Linked DNA regions of Homo sapiens. The protein of the gene in region 1 purifies or fractionates together with the protein of each later gene. This does not show direct contact. Each region holds a gene or a part of one and is shown in the gene's direction. Other genes may lie near its edges.

What was found. The genes of interacting proteins can lie anywhere in the genome.
Region 2: the proteins of CELF3 (region 1) and MKRN1 purify together in Homo sapiens (affinity purification with mass spectrometry; 2 studies listed by BioGRID and IntAct, with this or other methods). This does not show direct contact.

What each region holds. Positions count from the first base shown.
Region 1 is NC_000001.11:151,715,431-151,719,179, reverse strand, and holds the start of CELF3 (CUGBP Elav-like family member 3), read left to right. Parts: upstream 1-2,376; 5' UTR 2,377-3,159; coding exon 3,160-3,304; exon of another isoform or gene 3,305-3,557; coding exon of another isoform or gene 3,558-3,561; intron 3,562-3,749. UniProt on the Homo sapiens protein: RNA-binding protein involved in the regulation of pre-mRNA alternative splicing. Mediates exon inclusion and/or exclusion in pre-mRNA that are subject to tissue-specific and developmentally regulated alternative splicing.
Region 2 is NC_000007.14:140,472,868-140,476,616, reverse strand, and holds part of MKRN1 (E3 ubiquitin-protein ligase makorin-1), read left to right. Parts: intron 1-2,127; exon of another isoform or gene 2,128-2,236; intron 2,237-2,789; exon of another isoform or gene 2,790-2,842; intron 2,843-3,749. UniProt on the Homo sapiens protein: E3 ubiquitin ligase catalyzing the covalent attachment of ubiquitin moieties onto substrate proteins. These substrates include FILIP1, p53/TP53, CDKN1A and TERT.

The sequences.
Region 1 (3,749 bases):
TCCTCTAAACCCTGCCTCTTCTCTCAGACTGACACCTTTGGGGACCACAAACTAAGCAAAGGACTGGACGCATTTTGCTGTCTGCAGCTGTCTCCCCAATTACTGACTGGGAGGAGGAGTGAGGGGAGTTCATTTTAATTCATTTTTGTGAATGTTTAATATTTCAATTAATATGATTAGCCCCAAGCCTGAATGAGCAGCAGGGCGGCAGATCTGCTGAGAAGACATAGAGTAATGAGATCAACAGGGCCATAGGGTCTTCCCCTTCTCCATCCTCAGAGGACATGATCTGTTTAGCATCTCCATAAATACCAAGATCAGATTAGAAGGCAAGGAAAGGAGCAGTGGGGGTGGGGTAGGTGAGTGGAAAGTTACTTTCAAGATGTGTGTGCCCTTCTTGATTCCCTGGCTCTGCCGTCATTCGCTTCTTCTGAGCACCCACCACTGAGTCCTCTAGCACCTCCCCCCACTGCCACCCCATCTTAGGGGACCCTACTTGGGGGACCCGGGCATCCATGTGATGAAGTGTAATCAAGTCTACACACATACACATTCACTCAAATGCAAGCACCTGCCAGAGCGTGGCTCCAGGCCACAACAAAAAAACAGGCTAAGGAAGGATGGGAGGTGGTCCACAGAATCAAGCAGTAAAAAGAAAGACTCTCTCTCATCCAGGGCTTAAATGGAGACAGAAGAGGAAGAAAGGCCAGACTTCACCACTGCTCCCATTCTCAAGAGGAATGTTTGATGTGGGAGTTAAATGCGTGGACTCAGGAGCCAGACTGCCCAGGCTCCAGTCTCAGCTAGACCTCTTTCTAGCTGCATGGCTTTAGGCAAGTTATTTCAGCTCTGTGTCTTGGTTACCTCCTCTCTATTTGGAGATGACAAAATCTACATCATAGGGGGGTGGTGAGGGTTTAGGAGTTAGTAAATATAAAGCACTTGGCACAAAGCCTGGGACACTGTAAGAGCCATGTAAGCACTGGCTGTTACTATTATTTCCCTTCCAGAAGAGAAGCCTGCCTGCCGTGATAGCTCAGGAATGGAGGCCCCTGGGACTCAGCTGGGACACAGTTTAGAGACACGAGTGCCTCTGTGGAAACAGCAGCCCTACCCCGGGGGAGAAGAAGGGAATGACAGGAAGACAGGGTGCTCTACAAAAGCCCAGAGCCCCAGGAGAGCCCCCGTTGCTGAGCACTGACAGAAAGCAAGGGCTACCACCACTGACAAGGTTTGATGTCCACAGATAATCCCTGCACTGAGGGCGTGCTCTGAGTGGGCCCAGTGCATGGAGGGGTCACGCTCCCTCCAGATCGTGGAGCCTGCCAATCATCCATAGAAGTATCCATGGTCAGGGGAGCAATGGTCCCCGAATGTGCCTCCCCTGCTCTTCTGTGCTACCTGGCTCAATTTGAGTCCAACTCAAAGAACCCAACTGAAGAAAGAAGCAAAGGAAAGAGTAATTGGGTTTCTGCATCCTAAGGGGAAGCTTGACAGCTGTGGTTCTTCCCACTGAAGGAATCAGGAATCCACTGTTGTCAGAGGTTGTTTGCATGGAGTGTTTGTTAAGCTCCTGCTACGCATGAGCAAGACAGGGTGCTAGACACTGTGAACAGTAAGATGCTGAATTAAACGGTGTCCTGGTCTTCAAGGAGCTTACAAGTGAGAGCGCCCGCGGCGCCGCCTCCGCGGCCTCCCTGCCCACGCACTTATACACACAAACCCCCCAGAGGGAGAGAAGGGGGCATCGGCAAATGCCAGAAAGCTATCGTTTTTCTTGGTTCCTTTTCTGGAAAATATACAGTTCTCTTTCTGCATTCTTCTCATCCTGCTCCTCCTTCTCCACGTCCCTTTCCATTTTTCCTCTCTGCATTTTTTCTTTTTCCCCCAGACTCTGCGACCTGCTTCCCTCTCCATCTATATCTCCTTTCCCTTCAGCCTATGCAACCGTCCTTTCTCATTTTTCTTTCCCCTGATTTCTTTCCTTGACTCTCTACTCTTGGGGCTCCCCAGATGCCGGGCTCCCCTCTTTCCCCGCCACCCCCCATCTGCTGAGTCTTCCAGCACCGGGGACAGCTCCAGCCCCCGGAACAATGGACCCCACTTTAGGGTTCCTCTATAAATTCTCCATCTTAGTGCTTTGCCCAACTCCTGACTGGGGAGTAAGATGGGGGAAGGGTTATTATCAACAGGACCAGCTGCTCTTCTGGGGGCGGGAAGGGAGTCAGGGAGGATGGAGATAGAAAGAGGGCGTGGCTCGTGCCTGGATTGTGCGTCCCTCTCCAGGGTAGAGAATTTGTATTCGACCCCTGAGACTGACATCACTGATGTCAGGGGAAAGGAGGTGGGAGTGGGGAGGGGGGTGTGGAGGGGGGAGGTTTTTGTTGAGGAGAGCGCGGCCGGAGAGCAGAGCTCCGGGACCCAGGTGACCGGGAAAGCAGGCAGCCCCAGCGGCGGGAGCAGCCGGCAGCAGCCCAGGCCCGGGGACTGGGGTGGGGGTGGGAGGGGGGCTGAGGGGAGGACCTGAAGGGGGGCGGCAGGGCAAAAGGGACCCCTGGAGCCCTGCCGCCATCAGAGATCAAGCATCTGGCATCAGGGATCTTCGGACCCAGCAGAAGGATCCGCCACAGGGGAGGTGTCCTCCCAGGGAAGCCAACGAGAGATTCACCTGCCCCACATCAGGAGTGGGCCCCCCTTACTGACGCTGCTGGCAACCATAGCAGGCCCCTTAACCCCTCAGTCTCCTCCCCATCACCCTCCTCAGGCCCTTTCCCCGCCTCCAGCTCTCATCTCAACTCCCAGTTCCCAGCCCTCTAAGCCCTAGCACCCCCGGCTACCACCTAACCCTCCAGGTCTTGGCCATACTCACCCCCATCCTGGGACATTTGCCAGATCTCTGGGAGGGAGATCGTTTGTTTAGGCGATGCCCCCTGGTGGCATGACAGCGTCTGCCTAGACCCCTGACCCCTAGCACTCAACTCCCTGGGCCTCCTTTGTGTGAAGAGCCGCCCCTCTGCTTAGCAGCGTGGTTGGGGGCCAAAGGGAAAGCCAGCCCCAGCTGGGCCCCCGGGCCCCACCACTTATCTCCTTGCTGGGCAGCTCCCCTTGGCCTTTGGGCCTCTCCCTGCTCCCCTCGGCCCCTCCTCCTGGGCCGCCTCAATGAAGGAGCCGGATGCCATCAAGCTGTTTGTGGGGCAGATCCCGAGGCATCTGGAGGAGAAGGACCTGAAGCCCATCTTCGAACAGTTTGGTCGGATCTTTGAGCTGACTGTCATCAAGGACAAGTACACCGGGCTGCACAAGGGTGAGGGGTCGGGCAGGCTGAAGAGGCTTCGGGGTGGGCTGGGAGGCTGGGGGAAGTTAAGCCAGGCTGGAGGGGTGGAGCGGCTGGGAAGGGCTGATGTGGAAGGAGAAGAGTTCAGGCCTGAGGAAAGTGGATGGAGGAGCTGAAAAAGAACTCAGCTAGAGTGATCAGGAAACCCCGGTGAAGGACTAAGGAGGGCCTCTTTTGGCTGAAGAGTTGTCAAGACGGCTGCAAAGATGTGGATCCCAGACATATGGGTGTGTTGATGTCATGGGATGAACTCAAGAAAGAATGGAGGGACAAGAGAGCTGGTTTGGGAGATAAGCAGCTGGGTAGGGGTGTGTGTGTGTGTGCGTGTGCAGCAAGACTGAGAATCTGAGCAGCCTCAGATAATATTGGGATGGGGGTCAGGACACAGGGTCAGGTGTTCAATGTGGAAAGCGTG
Region 2 (3,749 bases), on another chromosome or scaffold:
ATATACCTAGAATTACCCACTTTAACAGGAACTTTGTAAGATTCCTCTGCTTTCATTAAAAAAAAAAAAAACAAAACTTGTAAATTACCAAAGACAAAGTACTTAACAGAACACATGTGTATCTTCCTTTTTTTTTTTTTTTTTTGAGATGGAGTGTCGCTCTGTCGCCCAGGCTGGAGTGCAGTGGCGAGATCTCAGCTCACTGCAACCTCTGCCTCCTGGGTTCAAGCGATTCTCCTGCCTCAGCCTCCTGAGTAGGTGGGATTACGCCCGGCCACATGTATATTTTTTCTGGAACTACCTTATTCAATCATTCAGTAAGTAAACATTGCACGCCAGCAATGGGAGACACAATATTAGGTGTTCAAGAGAGTGCAGATGTATGTACTGTATTATAAATAAACATTTTCAATATGTTTGCTAGGTAAACATCACCTAAAGAATCAGGTAGAGGTGTGTTTTAGTGTTTGTGCTCATTTCTCCCTATAGCACATCACTCCTGTATCTAGGAATTTGACTAAAGCTATTTTCTTCACTTAGAAGTTTTGATTAGAATGTTTTTAATTGCTCGGAATCACCTGTATTTTCCTACTGGTTACATTTTTTCTAATGTTTCTCCTGGGGTTTTCATTGTGTTTTATACCTTTCCTCAGAAACTGTGTTATGCTGCCACCACCAGGCTGTTTTTCATATCTTTTATTAGAGCAATACTAAGAAACAGAAATGCTCATTGCATCTGCTACCTTGAGTTACCTTGAGTGTGTGAGGTTAGAACAGTTAATACTTAAAGAGAAGTTGTAATTTGAATTTAGACCCCTCTTTATTAGAGTGCTTCTATAATGGCAGATAAGTGTTCTGGTAGTTGAAATAATACACAAAAAAACAAGTGTTTAATTTTTAATTTTTCAAAAAACTCTTTTCTTGATTTTTATTTGTATTTATTTGTATTTTTTGAGATAGGGTCTCGCTCTGTCCCCTAGGCTGGAATGCAGTGGCAGTGTCTTGGCTCATTGCAGCCTCCACCTCCCAGGCTCAAGCAATCCTCCTGCTTGAACCTCCCCAGTAGCTGGAATTACAGGCACGTGCCACCACCCCAGGCTAATTTTTTTTTGCATTTTTGATAGAGACAGGGTTTCACCCTGTTGCCTAGGCTGGTCTTGAACTCCTAAGCTCAAGTGTTTCACCCGCCTCGGCCTCCTAAAGTGCTGGGATTACAGGTGTGAGCCACCATGCTTGGCCTTGAAAGTTGTGTTTTGTTTGTTTGTTTGTTTGTTTTCTGAGATGGAGTCTGTGTCGCCCAAGCTGGAGTGCAGTGGCACGATCTCGGCTCACTACAACCTCTGCCTCCTGGGTTCAAGGAATTCTGGTGCCTCAGCCTTCCGAGAAGCTGGGATTACAGGCACGTGCCATCACACTCGGCTAATTATTTGTACGTTTAGTAGAGATGGGGTTTCACCATGTTGCCCAGGCTGGTCTTGAACTCCTGACCTCAGGTGATCCACCCACCTTGGCCTCCCGAAGTCCTGGGATTACAGGCATGAGCCCCCGTACCTGGCCTCAAAAGTTTTTAAAAATGTGGTTAACGTAACTTAAAGATCAGCTGGGCGTGGTGTCTCACCCCTGTAATTCTAGTACTTTGGGAGGCCAAGGCAGGTGGATCACTTGAGGTCAGGAGTTCGAGACCAGCCTGGCCAACATGACGAAACCCGTTCTCTACTAAAAATACAAAAATTAGCTGGGCGTGGTGGCGGGCACCTGTAATCCCAGCCACTCTGGAGGCTGAGGTGGGAGAATCACTTGATCCCAAGAGGCAGAGGCTGCAGTGAGCCAAGATTGCACCACTGCACTCCAGCCTGGGTGACAGAGTGAGATTTCGTCTCAAAAAAAAAAAAAAAGAAAGAAGGAAATCCTTCAGAAATTCTTTATCTGAGTGCTGTGACGTCCATAGTGAAATTTATTACTTGGAAACTACATAGTGGTTGTGAGAGGAAATAAGTAATAAATATTAAATGGTATTAAAAAGATTATGCAACTGGGAAAGAAAAATTAATTTGCTATCGCTACCATGATTCACCATCACATCTAGCTGTCTTCTACAGCCTTTTATTTATTTATTTTTTTTTTGAGACGGAGTCTCAGTGGCGTGATCCTGGTTCACTGCAACCTCTGGGCCCCCCCCAACCCACTGCGAGTTCAAGCAATTCTGCCTCAGCCTCCCAAGTAGCTGGGACTACAGGTGTGTGCCACCATGCCTGGCTAATTGTTTGTTTTTTTTGTATTTTTAGTAGAAACAGGGTTTCACTGTGTTAGCCAGGATGGTCTTGAGCTCCTGACCTCATGATCCACCTGCCTCAGCCTCCCAAAGTGCTGGGATTACAGGTGTGAGCCACCGCACCTGGCCTAATTTTTGTATTTTTGGTAGATAGTGGGTTTCACCATGTTGGCCATGCTGGTTTTGAACACCTGACCTCAGGTGATCCACCTGCCTCTGCCTCCCAAAGTGCTGGGATTGTAGGTGTGAGCCACCGGGCCCACCCTACAGTCTTTTATTCTTTCTTTCTTTCTTTCTTTCTTTCTTTCTTTCTTTCTTTCTTTCTTTCTTTCTTTCTTTTTTTTTTTTTTTTGAGACGGAGTTTCGCTGTTGTTGCCCAGGCTAGAGTGCAGTGATACAATCTTGGCTCGGTGCAATCGCCATCTCCTGGGTTCCAGCGATTTTCCTCTCTCAGCCTCCAGAGTAGCTGGGATTACAGGCTTGTACCATCACACTCGGCTAATTTTTGTATTTTTAGTAGGTACCGCTTTCACCATGTTGGTCAGGCTGGTCTCAAACTCCCAACCTCAGGTAATCCACCCGCCTTGGCCTCCCAAAGTGCTGGGATTACAGGCATGAGCCACCGAACCCGGCTTTCTACCTTTTTCTAACAAGTATATATTATGTGCACAGATAGTTGGAGATAAAAAGGGGAATAAACCAGTCTTTACCCATCAGGAATTTATAATCTAGTTTGATAAATGGTATACTCACTCATTAAAAGTTAAATATCAAAGTAAGAAGTGTCACTGCAGATGAATTGATTAAATGCCTTATCTATTCTATAATTTGTAGAAATTCCTAAAGAGGTTGTTAAGATGCCTAGAGATACTCTGAGGGTGCTGTTTGGTTCTCTTGTACCCTTACAGGGTAACTTGGCAGTTTCTTGTTCTCTATGTTGGGGGCCACTATTAGGTTTCTAAGAGGCACAGCAGTAGGGGGATTCTAGTAAATTTTGTCTTTTACTGCACAGTGTCTCATGGAGACAGAGTCTGCACAGTGGAAGGAACTTCAGAAATAATATATGGCCCAGGTTTTCACCGAAGGCAAACTCAACTTGGGGTGAATCTGGATGATGTTTTTTTTTTTTTTTTTGGTGGTATCATTTAAAAACAAGACATATACTTATATTCATTGGTTTTTGTTTGGAGGAGAAATTCTTTGACGTAGACTATATCTTTTTTTCTTTTTCTTTTTCTTTTTCTTTTTGAGATGGAGTCTCTCTGTTGTCCAGGCTGGAGCGCAGTGGCTCAATGGCACGATCTCGGCTCACTGCAATCCCTGCCTCAGCCTCCCGAGTAGTTGGGATTACAGGTGCCTGCCACCATGCCCGGCTAATTTTTTGTACTTTTAGTAGAGATGGGGTTTCACCATATTAGCCAGGATGGTCTTGATCTCCTGACCTCGTGATCCATCCGCCTTGGCCTCCCAAAGTGCT